7 linked regions of the Homo sapiens genome follow. The protein of the gene in region 6 purifies or fractionates together with the protein of the main gene of each other region. This does not show direct contact. Each region holds a gene or a part of one and is shown on either strand. Other genes may lie near its edges. The genes, in order: CYLD, ZNF318, DBT, DNASE2B, CUL7, CECR2 and PRRC2B.

Evidence for each region.
Region 1: the proteins of CECR2 (region 6) and CYLD purify together in Homo sapiens (affinity purification with mass spectrometry, with the first as the bait; one large-scale study listed by BioGRID). This does not show direct contact.
Region 2: the proteins of CECR2 (region 6) and ZNF318 purify together in Homo sapiens (affinity purification with mass spectrometry, with the first as the bait; one large-scale study listed by BioGRID). This does not show direct contact.
Region 3: the proteins of CECR2 (region 6) and DBT purify together in Homo sapiens (affinity purification with mass spectrometry, with the first as the bait; one large-scale study listed by BioGRID). This does not show direct contact.
Region 4: the proteins of CECR2 (region 6) and DNASE2B purify together in Homo sapiens (affinity purification with mass spectrometry, with the first as the bait; one large-scale study listed by BioGRID). This does not show direct contact.
Region 5: the proteins of CECR2 (region 6) and CUL7 purify together in Homo sapiens (affinity purification with mass spectrometry, with the first as the bait; one large-scale study listed by BioGRID). This does not show direct contact.
Region 7: the proteins of CECR2 (region 6) and PRRC2B purify together in Homo sapiens (affinity purification with mass spectrometry, with the first as the bait; one large-scale study listed by BioGRID). This does not show direct contact.

Annotation. Positions count from the first base shown.
Region 1 is NC_000016.10:50,748,586-50,752,085, reverse strand, and holds part of CYLD (ubiquitin carboxyl-terminal hydrolase CYLD), read right to left. Parts: intron 2,538-3,500; exon of another isoform or gene 2,511-2,537; 5' UTR 2,388-2,510; coding exon 1,884-2,387; intron 483-1,883; coding exon 180-482; intron 1-179. UniProt on the Homo sapiens protein: Deubiquitinase that specifically cleaves 'Lys-63'- and linear 'Met-1'-linked polyubiquitin chains and is involved in NF-kappa-B activation and TNF-alpha-induced necroptosis.
Region 2 is NC_000006.12:43,342,148-43,345,647, forward strand, and holds part of ZNF318 (zinc finger protein 318), read right to left. Parts: intron 733-3,500; coding exon 529-732; intron 65-528; coding exon 1-64.
Region 3 is NC_000001.11:100,243,335-100,246,834, forward strand, and holds part of DBT (lipoamide acyltransferase component of branched-chain alpha-keto acid dehydrogenase complex, mitochondrial isoform 1 precursor), read right to left. Parts: intron 1,269-3,500; exon of another isoform or gene 1,209-1,268; intron 1-1,208. UniProt on the Homo sapiens protein: The branched-chain alpha-keto dehydrogenase complex catalyzes the overall conversion of alpha-keto acids to acyl-CoA and CO(2).
Region 4 is NC_000001.11:84,408,484-84,411,983, reverse strand, and holds part of DNASE2B (deoxyribonuclease-2-beta isoform 1 precursor), read right to left. Parts: coding exon 3,466-3,500; intron 1,147-3,465; coding exon 985-1,146; exon of another isoform or gene 974-984; intron 1-973. UniProt on the Homo sapiens protein: Hydrolyzes DNA under acidic conditions. Does not require divalent cations for activity. Participates in the degradation of nuclear DNA during lens cell differentiation.
Region 5 is NC_000006.12:43,047,352-43,050,851, forward strand, and holds part of CUL7 (cullin-7), read right to left. Parts: intron 3,048-3,500; coding exon 2,909-3,047; intron 2,809-2,908; coding exon 2,612-2,808; coding exon of another isoform or gene 2,585-2,611; intron 2,312-2,584; coding exon 2,056-2,311; intron 1,219-2,055; coding exon 981-1,218; intron 903-980; coding exon 797-902; intron 639-796; exon of another isoform or gene 626-638; coding exon of another isoform or gene 596-625; intron 1-595. UniProt on the Homo sapiens protein: Core component of the 3M and Cul7-RING(FBXW8) complexes, which mediate the ubiquitination and subsequent proteasomal degradation of target proteins. Core component of the 3M complex, a complex required to regulate microtubule dynamics and genome integrity.
Region 6 is NC_000022.11:17,375,960-17,379,459, reverse strand, and holds part of CECR2 (chromatin remodeling regulator CECR2), read right to left. Parts: intron 1-3,500. UniProt on the Homo sapiens protein: Regulatory subunit of the ATP-dependent CERF-1 and CERF-5 ISWI chromatin remodeling complexes, which form ordered nucleosome arrays on chromatin and facilitate access to DNA during DNA-templated processes such as DNA replication, transcription, and repair.
Region 7 is NC_000009.12:131,400,586-131,404,085, reverse strand, and holds part of PRRC2B (protein PRRC2B), read right to left. Parts: intron 1-3,500.

The sequences.
Region 1 (3,500 bases), on a different chromosome or scaffold from region 6:
AATATTCAAAGTGTTCAATTTGCAAGTAAATTGGTCCTAAAACTAATACATATATATATAAACTATACATATATATGTGTGTATATATATGTGTGTATATATATGTTTATATATATATATACATATATATATAAACTAATATATATATCACAAAGATATTTAATCCAAAATTTTCTTACCATGTCCACACCAACAAAATATCCTAAGCTTTCTTTTCCTGGCAAAACATCACAGAATATAACTGTTCCAGATTCTATTGTTTCTCCAACCTTCAAAGAAACTCTGGAGTTTATTTCCAAAGGAGGAAGTTCGACCTGCATTGTGTCCCCAGGACCTGCGTAATCACTTTCCAATGCAGTGTCATCATCTTCTATGAGTTCTAGCTTGTCCAATGCAACAAACACGCCACAATCTTCATCACACTGAAAAAGCTGTTTCCCTTGGTACACCCCGTCAGTGAAACCTTGACCACGACCTTCTTCCTAGTTTTTAAGAGAGAAGGGAAAGAAATAGATATAGAAAGACGATCCATAGGAAAAGGGGTTCACTCTAGGGATTTCAGGAAAATCACTCTGGAAAATTTCTAAATGATACATATAATAAGAAATACAATTATTAGCAGTTTCTGTTGGATTTAGAGTGTTTTAAAAAATAAGAAGTTGTATCTGATGCTGAAATAATATTATCTGATAATTTCAATTCATAACTCTATCATGAGAAAGCTAGGCTGAATTCCACGTTGTGATTCTAACATTAATTTGGTTATAAAAAGAAAATGTTACTTTAAAATAGCAGTAATGTTAGCTCCATTCATTAAGCACTTATTGTCAGTCACTGTGCTTAAATCCTGCATCAATGTACCACAAAAACACTACAAGTCATGTACTATTAACACCATTGTACAGGTAAGGATGCAGAATGAGAGAAGTTAAGTAGCTTTGTTAAGTAACCTGGCAACCCAGCTAGTAAATGGCTTAACTGGGATTCAAATTCCTAATTGTTTACAATCACTGCTTTTAAAAAAAATTAAATCAAGAAGCAAAGAAGACATGCAATTCTATTGGCAAGAGTGTCAAAATGTAATTGGCATTTCAGTTCTTGTGAATGAATATTAAGTTTGGAAACATATCACAGCATTCTTGGGTCTCCTTCCGGTAGAAATAAATTCTAAGGATTTTCACATATATTATCGGGGACAATTATAAGCAAGTTTAAATTTCTGCAACTTTTTTTTCAAAAATCTTATATCTAAATTGTTATTTAATAACATACATTAAGAAGAACTAAGAAACCTATAGATGATAACGCAAGGTAATTAACAATTTTTTATGTAACTATTTACAACTGGTAGCGTTCATGTTTAATACAGGCAATGTTAAAATTTCTAAAATATATATGTCTGCAATAGCCAGGTGAATCTCTTTGTATGTTCCTACCATAGTACATAGTTTTTTAAGTTTCGACATCATCTTTACATCTTCGCAATTCATCATTAAAAAGTAAACAAAAGAAATTAAATCAAGAAGCAAAGAAGGCATACAATTCTATTTGCAAGAATGTCAAAATATAATTGACATTTAAGTTCTCAAGAATGAATATTAAGCTTGGAAACATATCACAGAGTTCTTGGGTCTCTTTCCAACAGAAATAAACGCCAAGGTGATTTTCACACATATTATCAGTGACAACTATAAGCAAGTTTTGGATTATGGATTCAACCACAACATGGATTCATCAGCAAGGATGATGAATATTAAAAATTACAGAAGACTCTTGGGAAAATTTATTTCGTATTTAAGGAGAAAAATATGTATGTGCATACAAATACACAGACACACATGAACACAAACAAACACACTACTAAAATGGTTTATCAAACTTACCAGCAATTCAACTCCAAAGAATATTCCGGAGACTGTCCTCTCTGCTAACAGGGGTCCTCTGAAGCGTACAACTCCAGGAAATTTTTCTTCCCCAGATCTCAGCTGTACTTTCACAGGACAGCCCACGTCTATTTGGAGGCCTTTACTTAGTCTGTTTCTGTTTTTAAACAGGCTGAACCTCTCCTCACAATTGGTAATTGCCAAAAGTAACTCTGTGAACTTTTCATTTATCTCTACAACATCCTTTTCATCAACAAAGAGAACTGCATGAGGTTGCTCTAGAATTTTTAATCCAATCTGATTTTTCTTGCCTTTTGCAGAAGGAATCCTTGAATGCCCCACAGAACGATCTTGAATATACTGTCCTATACTTCCCTTCGGTACTTTAAGGAGCTTTTGTGTTTGTTTGTCTGTAACGCTGCATTCTTGAAGAAGCAAGTAAAAAATCCGCTCTTCCCAGTAGGGTGAAGTGACTTTTTCTTGGCTCCATAAGCCTGAACTCATTGTGATATTAACTTCAAAATACTAATTCAAAAAAGGGAAACTACTAATAACTTTGTCATAAAACCGCAAAAGATAAATTCAGTGGCAGTCCCAAAGCATGTTTTCAGCAACGTGGTGTCCATGCTGTAAAAAGAAAGGAAATCAAAATGCCTAGTGAAAAAGCAAAAATAAACTTTAGACTTCATTCTACATGACTGAAAATTAAGACTGAAGACTTTTAAAATTTTCATTTGACCAGTAAACACATACACACAAATGAAATATTTTCAAAAAATATCTAAAAGGGCTAAAAGACATACATACTGTATTACTTTTATCTACTGTAACTGTGCATATTTAATTAATGAAATCCAATTGTAAAGTACTTTCAAAGACAACACAATGTTTGCTTCCAAGACACTGAAATTTATAAAATCAGATTCTAGTAAAAACTTTTAAAGATTACCCTTATATACATATTCTAACTTTTTTTAATTTATTTTTATTTATTTGTTTTGAGACAGGGTCTCACTCTTGTTGCCCATGCTGGACTGCAGTGGCACAATCACAGTTCACTGTGGCCAAGACCTTCCAGGCTCAAGTGATCCTCCTACCTCAGCCTCCCGAGTAACTGGTATTATAGACGCATATCACCACACACAGCTAAGCTTTCTATTTTTTGTAGAGACAGGGTCTCACTATGTTGCCTAAGCTGGTCTTGAACTCCTGGGCTCAAACAATCCTCCTGTCTTGGCCTCCCAACGCACTGGGATTACAGTCGTAAGCCACCAGGCCTGTCCCATATTCTGACACTAATAAACTTTTAAAAGTAGCGTTTCGGGCTGAGCTGTGTGGCTCATGCCTATAAATGATAGCTATGATATGGCCATATTGTGATAATGGAACATTTTACCTCTGACTCAACTTCATTTCATATATTTTTTCTGAAGATGGGCAATGTTCATCACATTAATCATAGTTATCTGATTTCTCAAATCGCAAATATCAGATATTATAATATGACTATATTAAAAATATTTTAAAAATCAATTTTGTAGCATCAAAACTTGTACTACATAGCAAGGGAATATCATGATATAACTGCATTATAATTTCTTTCTATTATTTCTTTTT
Region 2 (3,500 bases), on a different chromosome or scaffold from region 6:
TGGCATCTTGCTTGGCCTCACTCTGGGTCTTTGAAGCCCAAGGTCTGTTGTAGGGATCCAGTGTCTATTTGTAAGAGGCAGAGGTGCTCACACAACAGCACTAAAAGCTCAATGACCCACTTTTCTCTTTTTTTTCCCCCATAATAAGACCAGGGGACCAGAAGCCCCCAGCTACCCACCCCCACCCCCTCTGCCAACTGTTTTAATGGAAATCACCTGTGGAAAAGGTAAACACATGTTAGAGCAAGTACCAGAAAAAGGTAAAATGAAACAAAAAAATCAGGTACTCAAGGAATCAAAAGAGGCAGAAACCTCACTTACACTTGTCATGGTGTTTAGTTACAGCCAAGTCCCCTGGACTGAGCCCTGGGGATGGTGTCTCCTTTGTTGGTGTCTCTTGGCTCTTCAGACTGGGGCTCCTGCCCATATGAGAATGTTTCCTTTTCCAGCTTTGCAATGCAGATAGGGGTATAGAAGTTTGAAGAGAGTGAGGGTGGGAGTGAAAATAACAGAGAGTAGGATACCAACCTGTGTGTGCTTCTTATTGTGCATATGAGTGAAGAAATCAAACATGGTCCCACAGATGGTGTTGCAGTCTTTGCACCAGTGATTGCCAGCATCATAATACTCATAAGCAGCAGTGGGCTGATCCAACTGCTTAGTGGCTGACTGGGGGCTTTCGGCAGGCTTGGGGCTCTTAGTACGAAACTTCTCATTGTTTACTTTTGATTCCTAGAGGGGAAAAATCTGTACTTACAAGGAATTCAAGGCAATCTAGACTTGTCTTCTGTTAGAAATAGTAAGTGGCCATAATAATAGAAATAGGGCCATATGACCATATTTCCAATGTTTAAAGCTGCACAAGTTGGGGGGAACCCTAACAGAAACATGTCTCTAAGACATAGAACTATTTGACTTCATAGTGCTATCACAGCATAAAAAGTAAATCATAATGGCAATATATTTACTTACATATCCTAAAATATCTCTAGAAGAACAGCCAAGGTTGTGGAAACATTGGCTGCCTCTGGGGAAGGGAAGTGGAGAACAAGGATGGGTAGGAGTCTCTTCACTGTATACCCTTTAGTAAATGTTGAATATGTTACCTATGCAACTAAACAGTTAAATTTGAAAATCATGACAGCTAGGGAGGGAAGAAAAACCAATATGGAAAAGGTAATTGACAGGCTAAGCAAAGCAAATGCAGAAAATAGGTGATAGTGAACTCATCACATGCATCCTGGTATGAAAAACTGGAGAGAAGGGTTGGTGTACATAGATAAAGTAGACTATACAACTACACATAGATAAAGTCATCTATGTAGAATGATTTAAAGGAATCTAGGAAAAACATTCCTAACTGCCTAAAATATCACTTTTAGAATTTAACAACTTTAGAGGCCAGGTGCAGTGGCTCACACCTGTAATCCCATCACTTTGGGAGGTCGAGGTGGGCAGATCACTTGAGGCCAGGAGTTCGAGACAGGCCTGGCCAACATGGTGAAACCCCATCTCTACTAAAAATACAAAAATTACCCGGGCATGGTGGTGTGCACCTGTATTCCCAGCTACTCGGGAGGTTGAGGCACGAGAATCACTTGAACCCAGGAGGCGGAGGTTGCAGTAAGATAAGATTGTGCCACTGCACTCCAGCCTCAGCAACAAGTGAGACCCTGTCTCAAAAAAAAAAAAAAAAAAAAAAAAATTTTAACACCGTTAACATGTATCCTTTTTAAAAATATATCAACTTCTTAATATTAAAGTTATCAACAGCAAATACTTTAATATGAATTAATTTATTACCAAGCTGGAACAAGGCACTCAGGAAATGAGAATTTTGGTTAATGTTCAGGAGTAAGGCACAGGAAAAAAAGATAATTTTTGCAACTCAGAGGCTCACTATGAATGGGGTTCTATAGTACACAAGATGAAGAGCTGGGTACCTGGAATATTGGCTCACGCAGGGAAAAAGGTAGGATACAGAAAGGGAAACAATTGGGGCTTCAAAGATACTCTTTCCCTACCTGAGTCCTATTCAAGAATCACTAAAGAAATCACACCAGACAGGCAGGGGATGGGAGAGTTCATACACTCCTGGTGGGAGTATTAACTGGCACCATCTTCTAGAAGATAATCTAGGAATACATTACATACCTCAAAATACTGTATACCCTTTAACCCAGCAATTCACTCCTTGACATTTATCCTATGGAAATTATCATGTCAAACAACAGGTGATTTGATTGGTTAAATAAATTTTGCTTAACCATGCAACCAAAACAACAAAAAATAAGGTTGTTAAAAATGGTATTATAGAAGTGTATTTACTGACATGGAAAGATGTTCATGATATACTGAGAAAACTAATAAAATACACTTGAATAATCAACAAAGATATGTAAATCGGCATACAGCGTTGAATATCACTTTATCCAAAATACTTTCTCTAACCACTCTATACTCCTTATCCTGTTTTCTTTTTTTAGGCACTTCTCATTACCTAACATGGACTTATTTATTTATCATCTTCTGCTATTTAATGAGAATATGAACCTTGTCTATACTGTTCAGTGTGATACTTCCCATATCTAGACCAGTTCCTGACACTTTATTGGTGACCAATACATATTTGTTAAGTGAATTGATGGACAGAATTAATACTTTGGTGTATGTATTTGGAATAACATACACCAAGGTATTAATAATAAATTAATGTATTTGGAATATATAATAATACCTTGGTGTATGTATTTGGAATAACATACACCAAGGTATTAATAATATTATACACCAAGGTATTAATAACAGTGGTCTCGGCTGGGCCCAGTGGCTCATGCCTGTAATGCCAGCACTTTGGGAGGCTGAGGTGGGCAGATTACTTGAGCTTAGGAGTTCGGGACCAGCCTTGGAAACATGGCGAAACCTCAACTCTACAAAAATACAAAAATTAGCCAAGTGTGGTGGTGGTGAGCACCTGTAGTCCCAGCTACTGGGGAGCCTGAAGTGGGAGGAATGCTTGGACCTGAGAGTTGGAGGCTGCAGTGAGCCATGACTGTGTCACTGCACTCAACTTAGGTGACAGAGTGAGACCCTGTCTCAAAAAAAAAAAAAAAAAGTAATAATAACAGTTGTCTCTAGGTAGATGAAATTACAAGTTTGTATGTGCTTTTCTGAAATGAACAGAAAGGGAAAGAAAATCTCAAACCAACTATACATTTTAAAGAGAGGTAAAGAAAGAAGAAATACCAAGGACAGGTAGGAAAGAAAGGCTGTGGACATAATATTCCTTACTGCTGAGATGAAAACTGAATTGTAACATATCCGTTAGTTTCAGAGACCATGAAGACGCACCCAAATCAAGATGACAGATTATCATTGGGTTCGTACATGAATAGAAATCCAATGTATAAGTCAATTACAAAGGACCAGAGCTTTTAAATTCTTCTCCCATCAAAGGCCCTACCTAGACTGAAGACCCAGGTATAAAAGACTAGGCCTAC
Region 3 (3,500 bases), on a different chromosome or scaffold from region 6:
GATGGAGTTTCACTCTGTCACCCAGGCTGGAGTGCAGTGGCACGATCTCAGCTTACTGCAACCTCCGCCTCCCAGGTTCATGCGATTCTCGTGCCTCAGCCTCCCAAGTAGCTGGGACTACAGGCATGTGCCATCATGTCCAGCTAAACTTTTTTTGTGTGTATTTTAGTAGAGACGGGGTTTCATTATGTTGCCCAGGGTGCTCTCGACCTCCTCAGCTCAGGCAATCCGCCCACCTTGGCCTCTCAAAGTACTAGGATTACAGGCCATGAGCCATGGTGCCCGGCCCAGACATCATCTTTACATTTACAATTTCCCTGTGGAACATACACGTTAGCCCTCTTCAACACACGGGAAACTGATGGGAAAGGTGAAGTAATTTGTCCAAGGTCACACAGCAAATAAGTGGAACAATCGAGCTCTGAAGCTAAATAAATTTGATGTCAAAGACCCTAGAAATAGGAGAAATAATCCCTAATTTCAAAGAGTTTACAACGTATGTGAGAAAATAAACACACATACAAACACACTCAAGCATGGACATGCATGCTCTAACTTTTTGTAATAAGAGGCATAGGCTTCTTTAATATAGTCCATAGGTTTACGAAAAAAAAAAAAAAGAGACATAGGCAGTACGTGATAAAGGAGTTTAAGCAGGCCGGGCACAGTGGTTCATAGCTGTAATCTCATTGCACTCCAGCCTAGGCAACAAGAGCAAAATTCTATCTCAAAAAAAAAAAAAAAAAAAAAGGAGTTTAAGTAGAGGGGTCTGGTGGGCTTTTTTTTCACGTTAGTGTGACCTGGGAAGGCTTCTTGGAGGAAGATTTAAGCTGCACTGTGCATAATAAGCATACATAATAAAAGAGCAGAAGGGCACTTTTAAGGCAGAGGAAACAGCATAAATAAACTACAGCAGAAATTGACTTAGCATATCTGCTGGGACATTGAGCGGCTTGATTTGGCTTGACCAAAGGTATAAAAGAGAGCAATGGAAACAGCTCAAGGAGGAAATGGTTGATGACTATAATGTCAGTATAAGGAGTTTGAACTCATACATTATGGGTTATTGAAGAAAAAGGATTAGGAAATTAGTAGTGGTTTATTGAATAGATTATAACAGATAAAATCTGGAGAGAAAGGGAGAAGTCAAGAAACTATTACATACCAAAATTATCAAAAAAGGATTTTTTTAAAAAAATAACTATTACCGTATTCCTCTCTTATCTCCTTATGTGCAGTGGACACGTTCAAGATCCCCCGGTGGGTGCCTAAAACCATGGACAGTACTGAATCCTACATATTCTACATATACCGTGTTTTTCCTATATATACATACCTATGATAAAGTTTAATTTATAAATCAGACACAGTAAGACAGTAATAATAATAACTGATAATAAAATAGAAAAATTATAATAATATACTGTAATAAAGGTTTTGTGAATGTGGTCTCTCTCTCAAAATATCTTACTGTACTGTGCTCACCTATTTTCAGACTACAGTAGATCATGGCTAACTGAGACCACAGATAAGAAGGGGAGAGTACTGTATAGTATTTGAGACACAAAGCAACAGGCTCCTGACTGAGGTAATTAATAGTAGAAAAAGAAAAAAAGCAACAAAAGTACCATAGGCAGTATATGATTAATATAATAGTAATTGAATGGCTCTGAGGAGAAGGCTAAAAACACTGTGAAGTTGCTGAATAGATGGATTAACAGGCAACAGGAAAGAGGAGAAGAAATAATTTTTCAAGCTAGAATTCTAAATTTTTTTTCTAGAAACAGACTATTAGACTAGTAAATTATATTTTTTAATTTTCTTCAAAGACAGGGTTGGCTGGGTGCAGTGGCTCACACCTGTAATCCCATCTCAAATAATAATAATAATAATAAAATAAAGACAGGGTCTCACTTTTTTGCCCAGGATGGTCTTAAACTCCTGGGCTGAAGCAATCCTCCTGTCTCAGTCTCCCAGAATGCTAGGATTACAGGTGTGAGCCACCACACCCAGCTAGACTAGTAAATTAAGCATAAGGCTTTAAACCTCCAATTTTAAAAAGGCATGCTTATGGAATTATCAGTTTTATATATTTTATATTTGAAGCAATTCTAAATTCATCTATGAACAATACTAAAGACACCTAGTTCTATGGGGACCATCTGTACCAATTTGCCTGAGGTGACACCCAATTCACCTCTAGTGATTCAAGGCAATTATTAATAACACCATTTTCATTCTCAAATACATCCTGGTTGAACAACTATACGTGTAGTCTAAGTCTTAATGCAATTATTTGACTAAAATAGGTCTTTCCTTGATTTTAAAAATAATTCAGCCAGGTGCAGTGACTCATGCCTGTAATCCCAACATTTTGGGAGTCCAAAGCAGAAGGATCACTGGAGCCCAGGAGTTCAAGACCATACTGGGCAATGCATTGAGACTTTGTCTACTAAAAATCAAAATAATTAGTTGGCTGTGGTGGTGAATGCCTGTAGTCCCAGCTACTTGGGAGGCTGAGGAAGGAGGACCACTTGAGCCCAGGAGGTCAAGACTGCAGTGAGCCAAGATCATGCCACCACACTCCAGCCTGGGCAACAGAGCAAGAACTTGTCTCAAAAATAATAATAAATAAAATAAAAAATTAGGCCAGGTGCAGTGGCTCATGCCTGTAATCCCAGCACTTTGGGAGACTGAGGCAGGTGGATCACGAGGTCAAGAGATCAAGACCATCCTGGCCAACACAGCGAAACCCCGTCTCTATTAAAAATACAAAAATTAGCTGGGCATGGTGGCGCGTGCCTGCCCAGTTACTTGGGAGGCTGAGGCAGGAGAATCGCTTGAACCCGGGAGGCGGAGGTTGCAGTGAGCTGAGATTGCACCACTGCACTCCAGCCTGGTGACAGAGTGAGACGCCGTCTCAAAAAAAATAAAAATAAAAAATTAATAATTCAATATCACAACCAGGACAGAAGAACATAAAGGGAAATGAAACTGTTCACCAAAGTAGCGTATTAAGGAAATATTTAATAATAATTCAATAGGCAGCTGTTGAGCACTCCTAAAGTCAGACATTGTACTGGACTTGGAAATGCAAAGCTAAATAAGATGCAATATATAGTTCCTGAATTCAAATTGCTTACACTTTACTACAGGAAGACAGACACAACAGAAAAATTCCAAATGGCATGATTAATCAAGAGTCAAATGCATTATGTCCTAGGGAAATGTAAAACACAACATTATAAGGCTATTTTAATAATTTACTACGGGGGTAAGAACTGTTTTTGCTTACAACTTTTTAGAAGAGTTTACAAACCTGACTTTTTTTTTTACTGAGTCATTTAAAAAATATTTATGCACACCTACAATGTGCCAGGCACTTGGGATTATACAGAGAACAAAACAGATGCAATTTCTTCCCTTATAGAATGCACAGTACAGTGAAAGGTAAAGACAAGTAAACCGGTGATTATAACACGTGCTATAATGAAGGAAAT
Region 4 (3,500 bases), on a different chromosome or scaffold from region 6:
CCCAGGTAATTTGGCCTTGGAGACCATATATTTTTTCTTCTAAATGTACATATACATATACAAAAGTTGAGAACTCCATGTACCAAAAAGCTTTAAGAATCATCATCTCCTCAGTGTGCATGCCTAATCTCTGTGATATTCGGCATCATTACATGATTTCAACTAGTGAGACTAGAGCTTGACTTGGGTGAGGAGCTCAGTGATCCTTGCCATAAGATGGAAATTTGATGAGAAACATTTTCTAAATCTCCTGTTTCTATAGGCAAGTTGCTTTTCACTACTATTTAGCTACCAACCTGTCCCTACTTCTCCTTTCCCACCACAGTTTGCCAAATCTAAGAATTTTTCGCTGAGCTTGAAATCTTAAAAGGAGATTATCTGGCTCAGAGGTGTCATGTTTGTGGCCTACAAGGAACATGTGGCCTGGAAAACTTCAAAAACAAAATTAAGATTGAACTCATATTTGGAAATCAGTTTCTCTCTCTCTCTCTCTCTCTCTGACACACACACACACACACACACACACACACACACACACACACACACACACACACACACCCTAGGTTTCTGGTACTTCATGAGAAATAAGGAGATCTGTAATCATTAGGCTTGTATTCCTGTAGAGCCACAGTATGATGGAACTGAGGCTTTAAGGGAAGCTAGGTGAGTCAACACCCCAGTTCATCACTATCCTCACTTCCCATGTAACATGTCTGTTTCACTCATATATGTTATCTACCAGGCCCCTGAATACATTTGAAACTACTGCCCTGATCAAGTTCAACAACTGCACTGGTAGATTAAGAGCCAAAGCCCAGTAAGCGAGCCTGCCCAAGACCTCACCATGGCAAAGCCAGTATTAGAATCTAGGTATCAGAGGGTCTATGAATAGATTAACAAATGAAGTGACACATTTATGAATATATTTCCAAATCATTTCTTCAACATAGTTATCGTTTTTTTTCTCACATACTTTAGTTTTACCTATTGCCTCATACTGGTTGTACTTGAAAGTTATGCAGATGCCACTTTGTCCATTTCGTCTCCCTGTGGGTGGATAATCATAGCCTTCTTCCGGAATTGGAGGAAACTGAGGGATGGAATGAATCAGCCAGAACCCTTGAACTCTGTTCCACAGCAGTAAACCTACCAAAGACACATTTAACAAAGATAAATCAGAAAAACAAAGCTTCTTTTATAATAGGGTTCACAGTGGCAACATTTAAGCCCATTTATGCTTCAGACTAGTGTTTTATTAGGCTAATAATCACAAGGATCATGCTTATTTTTCAAAGATTTCAAATACAATTCTGGCACATATCACATTGCCTGATTACTGATAAAAAGCCACCACGAAAAGGGAACCAAGGTAGCCATCCTGTGAAGAGTTAAGAGGAATTTCATTTTGAAATCACAAGGAAAATTTGTTTTGGCAGAATGCAAATTTGCTAAATTGGAATTGGACCTTGTTAAACTATACAGTCACCTAGCAAGATTTAGATAGTGTCTTCACTGCTAAGCAGCTAGGCTCTTTTCAAAAGCTGACTAAAAAACAGAGTTGAAAGAGAAAATATCAAATGAAGAAATGTACTCACAATAATTTGTTATAAAAAACTGCTGCCCATTTATTGGCAGAAGAGTCACTATTTCTACAAGCCCAATAAAAGAAGCAAAGAGACAAAAAGGAAGCTGTGCTAAAGCATCCTAGTTAATTACGTTTGTAAAAATCTCTAGAGCAAAATAAACAACTTGAAAGCCAATAAGGAAGAAAATAGAAAGATTTTTATCATTTTGTGACATACCAAAAAGAACTTTGTAAAACAGACATCTGACTATTTTTGTGTTTAGAAATTTATCATGGTAGGTTTGGTATGATAGCTAGACTTTCCAGTTTGCATATGACTATGCAAACATAAGATTCACTCGTGTTTGCCTAAGTGTTAGATTAAAAACCAAATGCCTTCTAGTTATTTTTTTTTCAAAGTGCCTATTTTAAGAAAGCATACTGTTGTTCTTTGGGTGGAAATAGAATCAATACCTGTGTCAAGGTGGAAAATATTGAAAGTTCTGTGTGTAACAGAACTGGATAACCTTCAAGAGTTATCCTCTGTGCAGATGAGTGTGCCAATTTGCTGGAATCCTATCCTCCTGGTACAAATGCCATAGGATATTAGGGCATCTGTTGGCCAAGAGAACCCCTCCACTTGATATTGTGCCCTACTTCTTTAGAGCCATTTCCCCAAAGCCTTGTGGCAGTTAGCAGGGTAGAGCAGGAATAGTGTGGGAGATTGTTGGAGGAGAGGTTGAAGAATGTAGCATGTTATGAAAATTGTTGGGTTCCCAGTAAATAGGGTATTCAGGAGAGCAACTTTGCTAAATAAAAAGCTTTCAAAGTTCATGACCTTTGTCAGCCATTACAAACTATATTCTAAATCAGAGGCTGCAAACTGACATCCTCTGAGCCAAATCCAGCCTGTGGATACATTTTATTGCGCTTGCAGAGTATTTTTTAAACTTTGAATTTAGTGCCAACATTTAAAAACTGGGGAGTTTTTCCACAAATATTAATTTTCAACATCTCCTGGAAAATTGTGTCCGTATCAGGCAAGTTGAATAGTAACTGCCTCCTTTCACTTGCTGACATCATTTGCCTGCTCCCTTGAAGGCATTTGAATTTGGAATCTTCTGAATACTTGTTGCCATGGAAAGTTATTTATGATATATGAAATTGAAAAAAGGTTGAAAAATAGTCATTACAGTAGTTTTGTAAAAATGTTTTAAAATATGTATTTTAGAAAAAGTAGAAAGGATTAAATATGGTTTATCTAATGGGCATTAGGATTATAGATTTTTTTGTTTACCTGTATTTTGAATTTTTCTGTAGTTCACAAACACATATGCAAAGTTTAGAAATAAAAAAATTGTGAAAGGATAATAAAAATTATATGTGATAATGTAAATAACATGATAAAAATTAATATAAAAAGCTATTTAAAATACTTTTTCAAAAATGTATATTTCCAAGGGAACTGTATGTTAAGAAGAGCTCGTTTTACTCTCTATAAATCATACTTCAATAAATCTGACTAAAATGTGTTTGTACATATATACTACATGCACATATACATATATACATATTCATGTGCATATATATATATATATATATAAAATTGCTGGTGTGTGTGTGTGTCCTCAGTATCAGTACCTGGATTCCTGCTGCTGCAAAGCAAATATTTTAAAATATGTTAAGAAATAAAATGGGATTTCTAAAAATGAGATTGCCAAGTCAAATCATATAATTATATTATAACCAGTGATATAGAAGTCATACATTTCAATAACTCAAATAAACTATTAAGAAGAAAGGCTATCTATTTAGTATGGAATATAAGGATACTCAAGATGAAATATTTAAGAAATTGTTGATTTCCAGTAGGAAAGAGAAACCAAGAATCTTTGTCATACCTTTGGTGTGTCCATACTTTCTGCTGTAATTCACA
Region 5 (3,500 bases), on a different chromosome or scaffold from region 6:
GCTGATTATGTTGGCAAAAACGGCAGAGAGCATCCCTGGGTTCTTTCATCCAGGCCCTACTGTCCCAAAAACCAGTTGTAGGGCTGTGTTTTGAGATGTTCAGGCACAGACACCTGGATGGCTGGGAAGGGGCTGACAGGGACTGGGTTTGTGTGTGTATTATACCCAATGAGCCTGCCTTAGAAAGTAAATTCTAGGTAACAGCCAAAAATATAGCCACACTGCAAATACCTACTGTCACCATGACCCTAGTTCTCTGAGCCCTTCTGAAGCCTTCTGTGCCCAGGACTTCTCTGTAGCTCTTGCAGGGGACTCTGGTATGTGATGGGCGCTCTGCCTCCTTCATCCCCCTTTCTCCCACAGGCCCAGCCAAAAATGGAGCTATTGAAGCTCTTAATGTTTTATGTAATAATATCTCCATATCCTTTTGTGTAAAAAAGAGAGTGGCAAGATCACACATTTGGGTTTGCTTATATTTGCATAAGGGAACACGGGAAAGATACATAAATTAATACAAGTAGTTACCAGTAAGGGGTGTGTGGGGGACCCTGGGGGAACAGAGATTTGGGTGAGAGCAAGAATTCTCAGTGTATACCTTGTTAGAGCGTTTTGATTTGTGAACCATGTGAATGTATTACCTATTTAAAAAAAATAAAATTCAATTTTAAAAGCAAAACTCAAACCAAGAGCTCAAAGGCTCTATCACGCCCTCCAGAGCCTTGCCCAGCAGGTGTGCCTTGCCAGTGGCTGCCTTTATCCTCTCCCCCAGCCTCTCCCCAGAGCAGGGCAGGGGTACCTCTCGATCAGTGTTTGGGGACCGCAGGCAGGCCATGCAGGCATCCACGGCCTCGTGCCAGGGGAGCAGCAGTGCCTCGGGGAAGTCCACCAGCTGCTTCAGGATTCTGGGGGCAGAGAAATGTGTAGCCAGCCTCATGGACCCCCTTTGCCCTCAGAGATCCCACCTGTCACCATGCTCTCACCTCAGCACAGTCAGGTGCAGGGTCCTGTTAGTCTCCGGAGTGTCCAGGCTCTGCATCAGTGCCAGGAAGGGCTGCGGCTGCCGCTGCAGCTGCAGCAGGAGTGGCTTGACCTTGTTCTCCTGGGTCCCCTCTGAGCTGAGGGCTTGCTCTAGATCCAGGAGGATTTTCCCAGCTGGACCATAACCCTCCACCAGACGCTGCAGGGGAGTGTTGGGACTCTGAGATGGGGGTTCTTTTGCTACAGGAAGGGGACAGTCACAGGAGTTGGCCATTGTTAGTAATGTGAAGGCTCAGAAATAGATTCATAACTCTCAATCTTTTTCTCTAATTTCTCCTAAAAAATGTTTTAAATTTTTTAATCCCCCTAAAAGTTAGGTTTGGGGATCTAATCTCTGAATGTCATTGTAAGACAGCTTCATGACAAATTTTATATTCTTTTTTTTTTTTTTTCTTTGAGACGGAGTCTCGCTCTGTCACCCAGGCTGGAGTGCAGTGGCATGATCTCGGCTCACTGCAACCTCCGCCTCCTGGGTTCACGCCATTCTCCTGCCTCAGCCTCCAGTAGCTGGGACTACAGGTGCCCACCACCACGCCCGGCTAATTTTTTTTTTTTTGTAGTTTTAGTAGAGACGGGGTTTCACCATGTTAGGCAGGATGATCTCGATCTCCTGACCTCATGATCCACCTGCCTTGGCCTTCCAAAGTGCTGGGATTACAGGCGTGAGCCACCATGCCCGGCCTTTATATTCTTAAAATAGCAAAGTAGCTTCATCTGAAAACAGGAGAGCACTTCCCTTTATTTCAAAGCATGGAATATGTTTCTGTACAAGAGAAAAAGCTAAATGTGGGGGCTTTTTTAAGTCTTCAAAATTCTCTTGCAATTTTCTAACTTTACATCCTCCTTCATTCTTTGAGGGAACACAATGCCTGCTTCTCCGTTTGTTGCTTCTCTCTAAGTTGCAGCTTCTAAGGTGGCATCACTTCCAGAAAGGATTGCATAAAAATCAGCACAGACATCTCTCCTGTGCTACTGCCCTGAAGGTGTGTCAGCTCAGCTGCTGTGTCTGGCACCCACCTTCCACTTTGGCTGCATCTTCTGAGTCCTTAGCCTGGGCCTGCGCGTCTAGCAGGAGGACATCTTCTTGGGCTTCTAGAAGGGATGGGTAGGCTTGGTTCCCTGCTAGGGCTTCAGGCCCATACTTCTTGTAGACATGGCAGTTGATCAGGTCCCTGAGGGCACTGTCATTGAGTCGCTGTGGCAGAGTCAGCAGCAAGTCCTGGGCCAATTCTATGGGCACGGCCAGTTCAGCTAGGATCTCATCATCCAGAATCTGCCATCAAGGAGAAGCTCTCACTGCAGACAGCCCTGCCGACCCAGAGGCCCCAGGGAGCACTTGGTAGGGGTGGGGGTCTCTCTGCACACATACCCTCCATCCTGATCCTCTCACAGCTGGCAGCTGGCTCCTCCCAAACAGCTCACCCTCCCACCTCTGAAAATTCCAGACCCCTCCTCTGCAGCCCCTTCCACTCTCTGACCTCCACTTTTCATCCTGAGCCTTCCAAATGCTCTATACAGTCCAGCCCTTGCAATAGAGCCCTCCAACCTCTGAGTGTCTCCAGGCTGGCTCTACCTCCCCATCTAGGTTCTCCTGGAGGATCTGGAGAACCTCCTGATGGTCAGGTCCATCCAGCTTCTTGATGAAGAAGAGGAGTTCCCACCACTCAGCCAGGGTCAGGTGTTCACACTCCTCAGTGTCCTCATCCTCAGGCAGCACATAAGGCACAGCATAGAGTTCTGTCATGGGCCTCCAGCGCCAGGCAGGCAGGGCTGTGAAAATGGGCCAAGGGGCACAAGGATGTCACTAGCAACTCAGCAGGACCACCATTCCTCTGCTCAGAGCTGACCCTTGCTTCCTCCCTGAGCTCACCTCTACCCAGGACTCTACTGGCCACTGCCCCTTGGTACTCATCAGCCTCAACCATGTCCTCAATGTCTTCCTCAAAGCCCAAGATCTCCAGCATGTGCCAGTGCACCCAATAGGTGCGGCCTGTTGACTCCCAAAATACCTGGAGCATAGGGAAAGAAAGAGGGAAGGGGAAGGGAGGACTCACAAATGACTGGCTGTGGCCCAGTACTGAGGACTATAGCCCTCAGGGTGACCACCTGGCCAGGTTTTAGAAAAACCTCCACATAACAAAACAGCAGCATATGGAGAATACACACACACACACACACACACACACACACACACACACACACACACACACACACACAGGATGCCTTCTCCTTTGGGGGATGGGCCTGTCTCTCCTCTCACCCTGTCTTTCATGGCTTATGCCCCCACACTTCCTTCTGGCCTCCACCACTCCATCTCCCTGACCCTGACCTTTGGAGGAGTCTGGCTATATCAGTTTCTTCCCAGGTGTGAGTCTTCTTGACTTCACAGCCTCCTAAACCCAGATTTTCCCAGCTCTCAGAATGGCCCCCCTCTCAACTACTGACTCTTTTCACCATTCCAA
Region 6 (3,500 bases):
CTCCAGCCCCAGGCTGCAGCACAAACACCCCTCACCCCTCCTCCCTGCGGCACTAGGCAGCCAGGCCCTGCTTCAGGGAGGCCTTTTGTAGGGGAAGGCCTTTCTTTATCAGCCTCAGTTAGCTTCACAGTTCCCTCCCTACTAGCCCCAAACTCTCTTCTTTCCTTAAATGACGTTCTAGGAAAGAGAAAAAAATTAACAATGCCAGGCGCGGGGGGCTCAGGCCTGTAATCCCAGCACTTTGGGAGGCTGAGGTGGGCTGATCACTGGAGGTCAGGAGTTCGAAACCAGCCTGACCAAGATGGTGAAACCCTGTCTCTACTAAAAATACAAAAATTAGCCGGGTGTGGTGGCACACGCCTGTAATACCAGCTTCTTGAGAGGCTGAGGCAGGAGAATTGCTTGAACCTGGGAAGCAGACATTGCAGTGAGCCGAGATCGCACCACTGCACTCCAGCCTGGGTGGGCCACAAAAGCAAAACTCTGTCTCAAAGAAAGAAAAAAATTAACAAAACATCTGTTTCCCAGGTTTGTGACATGTACAATTGCTGATGACATTCACATCTGGGAGCAACTTTAACTTCCTTAAATTTCCATAAACAAAAATACTAAAGGTTTGCATTTAGGGGAAAAAATGCCCATCACAAGGAAAAACTCATCTATCTCACATAGGGTGTACCTTCTATACAATGACCAACACTGAAAAGTCATCTCTACCTCACACACTAAAGTAATGATTCTCAAAAGCAGGACAATTTCACCCCGCCGGACATATTTGGCAATGTCTGGAGACATTTATATTTGTCATGACTGGGGGTGCTATTGGCACCTGGAGCATAGAGGCCAACAATACTGCTAAACATCTTAAAACGAGGGCCAGGTGGGCCGGCTCACACCTGTAATCCCAACACTTTGGGAGGCCGAGGAGGGGGTCAGGAGATTGCGACCATCCTGGCTAACACGGTGAAACCCCGTCTCTACTAAAAATACAAAAAATTAGCCAGGCGTGGTGGTGGGCACCTGTAGTCCCAGCTACTCAGGAGGCTGAAGCAGGAGAATGGTGTGAACCCGGGAGGCAGAGGTTGCAGTGAGCCGAGATCGTGCCACTGCACTCCAGCCTGGACAACAGAGCAAAACTCCGTCTCCCAAAAACAAAAAAACAAAAAAACAAAAAAACAGCCCAGCGCGGTGGCTCACACCTGTAATCCCAGCACTTTGGGAGGCCAAGGCGGGCGGATCACAAGGTTAGGAGATCCAGACCATCCTGGCTAACACGGTGAAACCCCGTCTCTACTAAAAACACAAAAAATTAGCCGGGCGTGGTGGTGGGCACCTGTAGTCCCAGCTACTCAGGAGGCTGAGGCAGGAGAATGGCGTGAACCCGGGGGGCGGAGGTTGCAGTGAGCCAAGATAGCGCCACTGCACTCCAGCCTGGGCAACAGAGCAAGCCTCCGTCTCAAAAACAAAACAAAACAAAACAAAACGCATATAACATTCCTCATATAACAGCTTCCCACAACAGATTTTCAGATCAAACTATCAATAGTGCTGAGGCTGAGAAACCCAGAGGATTAAAGGAACACAATCTGGAGCTCACTCTTACTTTCCAATCATTCATTCCTTTCTCAATCCTAAGAGCTGCTGAAAAATGACTGTCCCCAAGTTTTCCAATATAAATTGACTGATATTTGTTAGAGGCTAATATAAAGATATAATAAAAGCATCCAAGGGATAGCATCCCATGAAATATGCAAATATGGAGGAAGGGTAGCAGCCATCTGAAAAGGTTATAATAGCAAATGAAAGGCAAACCACAAGCCAGAAGCTGTAAGTGGATCTTATTCAGAGTTCTAGCTATTGATGACATGAGATATAAGAAACAGACTAAGTGAAAGGAAGCCAAAGGCAGTGGCATGTGCCTGGAGTCCCAGCTACTGGGGAGGCTGAGGCAGGAGGATCACTTGAGCTCAGGGGTTCAAATCCAGCCTGGGTAACATAGTGAGATACTGTCTTTAAAAAAAAAAAAAAATGAAGTAAGAATCACATAATTCAATGCCTTCAGCCTCCAGAATTCCTCAAAATCTCAAAGCACAAAATCTTAGGTCACTTTAAGAACACTAGAGATAGTGAACATGTCAATCTTCAAGTCTCAAAAGCTACTTTCAAAGTAGCTTATTTGCAGACAAGATGCCAGAGAAAGAGAAAGAAAAAATTCCTATAATTTGCAAACACACCAAGTATGGATTTGCAGTTTTCACTTGGTACGTAATTAATTTGTAAGATGTGGATCCTAACCTTGACCCTAACTGGTGAGTCAGCAATTTTCTAGATTAGTTAAGAGTGTTATGCATGCTGAGAAACATTTCTAGAATCACAGAACTTTAGACATAGGAACACCTAGGAATCACTGAGTCTATAGATGGGGCACCTGAAACCCACAGTCATCTGCCTAAGAACACAACTTAAAGACAGGTGGGCCCACAATCCAGCTTTCTGATTGCTGCCTTTTGAAAATGTGTTTAGGGGCTGGGAGCGGTGGCTCATGCCTTTAATCCCAGTACTTTGGGAGGCCGAGGAGGGTGGATCACGAGGTCAGGAGTTTGAGACCAGCCTGGCCAACACAGCGAAACCCCATCTCTCCTAAAAATACAAAAATTAGCCAGGCAGATGGCACATGTCTGAAATCCCAGCTACTCGGGAGGCTGAGGCAGGAGAATCACCTGAACCCAGGAGGCAGAGGTTGCAGTGAGCTGAGATCACGCCACTGCACTCCAGCCTGGGCGACAAAGCAAGACTCCATCTCAAAAAAAAAAAACAAAAAAAAAGAAAATGTGTTTAGTCACATCAACTACATCTAAGACCATGTACTTAGAAGCTCCCCTTTGGCTCTGTCCACACACCACATTTTTACCTAAACCACCTTTGCACTGCAGTTTTCCGCACTCTGCCAAGCGCACTGCATTGTGCGAGCCCCAGCACACCATGGAATCCCACACTGAGCTCCCTTGATCAAAGGGGCAGATGATCGGTAGTACTGAATGCTGCCAAGGTGTATTTTAGGCTTTCCTAAGTGTATTCCAGAACATTAAGCAACTTAACTTCCGTTGCAAAGCGAGCCATGTGCTAACGCAGGCCGCCCTTCAGAGATGAGAAGGCGCTGCCCCTTCTAAACTGCAGAAGATCCCAACTGTGAAGCCTTTGAAGCTTCACATGGTGGGCACACACACACACACCAAAGCAGCAAGCCTTTCCTTTCAAAGCGTGGGTATAAATAGAAAGGGGACCTGGTATTCACTTTTAAAGAGTTACATTATGATAGCACATTCTCCCCTTTCAGGATCTTAGCCTGCACAGATCTGTCCTTCTGTAATTCACATCCTGTTCTTTGGCTTTCCTCCTTGGTGAGGGTGCAGATCCTGAATCTTTAGAAGGCATTTTATCCTCTAGTATGTTACATTAAATAGATTAGTGTGACAAAGGACTATTTTTTTTTTTTTTTA
Region 7 (3,500 bases), on a different chromosome or scaffold from region 6:
AAAATGGCTGGGTGTGGTGGCTTACACCTGTAATCCTAGCACTTTCAGAGGCCAAGATGGGAAGACAGCTTGAGGCCAGGAGTTCAAGACAAGCTTGGTCAACATAGCGAGACCCACCCCCACATCCCTAAGGAAGAAAAAAAAAGTATTACTGAAAATAAAAATAAGAGAAGTTACGCTTAAAAATACGTATGGAAAAATACTGTGATATTTTGAAAATGCCAAGTTGCAATACAATATAGTATATCCCATTTTTGTTTTTTAAAAAACCTCCCTACATGAGGCCATATTTATACGTGCACTGAGCCTAGAAGGATAAACAAAGCAAATTTATCAATAATGGTTACTGCCTGGGACATTGGGGAAAAGCTTTCATTTCTCTTCAAACACTTGGCTTTTAATTTTGTTTTTTTTTTTTTTTTTAAAGTATGGGCCAGGCGCAGTGGCTCACGCCTGTAATTCTAGCATTTTGGGAGGCTGAGGTGGACAGATGGCCTGAGCTCAGGAGTTTGCGACCAGCCTGGGCAACAAGGCGAAACCCCATCTCTACTAAAATACAAAAAAAAATTAGCCAGGCGTGGCGGGATGCACCTGTACTCCCAGCTACTCAAGAGGCTGAGGCAGGGGAATTGCTTGAACCTGGGAGGTGGAGGTTGCAGTGAGCCGAGATCATGCCACTGCACTCCGGCCTGGGCAACAGAGCAAGACTCCACCTCAAAAAAAAATAAATAAATAAATAAAATAACCTGTATACTTCTGCAATTAACATTTTACCAAAAACAAACAAACAAACAAAAAACCAGAAAATACCACATTATGATTCAGGACACTATCCTCTTCCCAAGGACTTCTGAACACTTGGCCCATTCAGTCCACCGACAGGTCGGTTGGGCAGGCAGGCAGGAGTGATGATGCCCCTCCCAGACAGGCCTGTGCTTTCTGCCCTGGCCTGGAACACAGCTGTTCTTTAAGCTCTGAACCATATGTAAACAACACCTGCCGAAAAAAGTTCTGCAAGACACAAAGGACCCATGGAAAGAGTCCTGGAGATGACCTCCTTTTTCCAGTAGGTCCTGCAGCGATCCATCCCATGGTTCTATACAAAGAGATGATCCTGAAGCGTGTCGGGAAGTTGACGCCGGCTTCCCGGAGGCACAGTCATTCTCTGCCCTCCTCCCTGCTGGCCACTGGCCATACAAGAATGCTTGCATAATGTTCACCATTCAAAGGGCCTCGGCACTCTCTGGAAAGCAGGCTGACCCACAAGTTCTCTTCTGGGACCCATACATTTCTGATTTCCACATAGGAACACATTTTTAATGTTCCAGGGCTCAGCACACTATTTTCAATAGGTGCTTATTTCGAGTCAGCTACATTTTCCAGAATGCCTTCCCTGACTGCCCCACACCCAGACTGAGGTGAGCTTGGTTTCTGCGTGGGCTCCTATAAGACCCCCTTCTCAGACACCTGGCACACAGTGATGAATGGGAAACAACAGAATTCTGCTTCCGGATGCATTTACTCACTCCACTGGGGGAAAGGACCATTCAATACATGAAAACAAAACTATCTACAGGCTGCTGCCCGTCGCTGAATGAATAAATAAAATGTGGTAGATACATGCAAATAAGAGAATATTATTCTGCCTTAAGAATGAAGTTAGTTCTGACACATGCTGCAACATGGATGAACCTTGGAAATACTATGCTAAAAATAAGCCAGACACAAAATGACAAATACTGGATGATCTCACTTACATGAGGTACTTAAGAGTATTCGGTTTCACAGAAAGAAAGTAAAATGGTTGGCAGGGCAAGGTGGCTCAACATTGCCACCATGGGATTACACATGGCTGTAATTCCAGCACTCTGGGAAGCCGAGGCAGGCAAATCGCTTGAGCTCAGGAGTTCGAGACCAGCCTGGCCAACATGGCGAAACTCCGTTTCTCCTAAAAATACAAAAATTAGCCAGACCTGTAATCCCAGCTATTCAGGAGGCTGAGGCAGGAGAATCGCTTGAACCCGGGAGGTAGAGGTGCAGTGAGCCGAGATCGTGCCATTGCACTCCAGCCTGGGAGACATAACGAGACTCTGTCTCAAAAATAATAACAATAATACAAAAATTAGACCAAGCACAGTGGCTCACGCCTGTAATCCCAGCACTTTGGGAAGTCGAGGTGGGCAGATCACCTGAAGTCAGGGGTTCGAGACCAGCCTGGCCAACATGGTGAAACCCCGTCTCCACTAAAAATACAAAAATTAGCTGGGCATGGTGGCAGGCGCTTGTAATCCCAGCTACTCGGGAGGCTGAGGCAGGAGAATCTCTTAAACCCAGGAAGCAGAGGCTGCAGTGAGCCGAGATCGCGCCATTGCACTCCAGCCTGGGCAACATCAAAACTCTGTCTCAATAAAATAAAATAAAATATACAAAAACTAGGCCAGGCACGGTGGCTCATGCCGGTAATCCCAGCACTTTGGGAGGCTGAGGTAAGCAAACCACTTAAGGCCAGGAGTTCGACACCAGACTAGCCAACATGGTGAAACCCCGTCTCTACAAAAAAATACAAAAATTAGCTGGGTGTGGTGGCGTGTGCCTGTAATCCCAGCTACACAAGAGGCTGAGGTTGCAGTGAGCCAAGATCGTGCCACTGCACTCCAGCCTGGGCGACAGTGAGACCCTATCTCAAAAAAAAAAAAAAAAGGAGAAAGAATGGTAAGAATGGTGGCCGCCGCCACTGGATGGGGGAGGGGAGTTGGCATCTAATGGGAACAGAGTTTCAGTTTGGGAAGATGAGAACGTTCTGGAGATGGATGGTGGTGATGGTTGCACAACACTGTGAAAGTGCTTCACGCCACTCAACTGTACACTTAAAAATGGTAAATTTTATGTTATGTATACTTCACCACAATTTTTAAAATTCAAATAAAGAAAAAAACACCTATTTACAAGTTGTGAAAACTGCTATAAAGAGAAACTGTAGGGGGCTCCGAAGAAATCACAGGAGGCTGAGGCAGGAGAATCGCTTGAACCCGAGAGGTAGAGGTTGCAGTGAGCCAAGATCGCGCCATTGCTCTCCAGCCTAGGCAACAAGAGCAAAACTCCGTCTCAAAAAAAAAAAAAAAGAAAGAAAGAAACCACAAGAGGATGAGGCCAAAGTTAGGTGGGGGGCTCTCCAGGGCCTCCTCCCCACCAGACCAGGATCTCCCCAGGAGTCAATGGGGCATCCATGTCCCTAGAAACAAAAACTGTTTAAGACAAAAGGCTTCTCCAGGTTCAAACCAGTAAATGGAGTAAGACCTCAAGCCCCACTCATCAAAGGGCTTAACCAGGACTGAGACCCCCCAGAACCTAGTGGCTCATGAAAGAGGCTGCCTTGCTGGGTGCCGTGGCTCATGCCTGTAATCCCAGCACTTTGATAGGCGGAGGCGGAGGGATCACTTGAGTCCAGGAGTCTGAAACAGCCTGGGTGTCCAGGCACGGTGGCTCACACCTGTCATCCC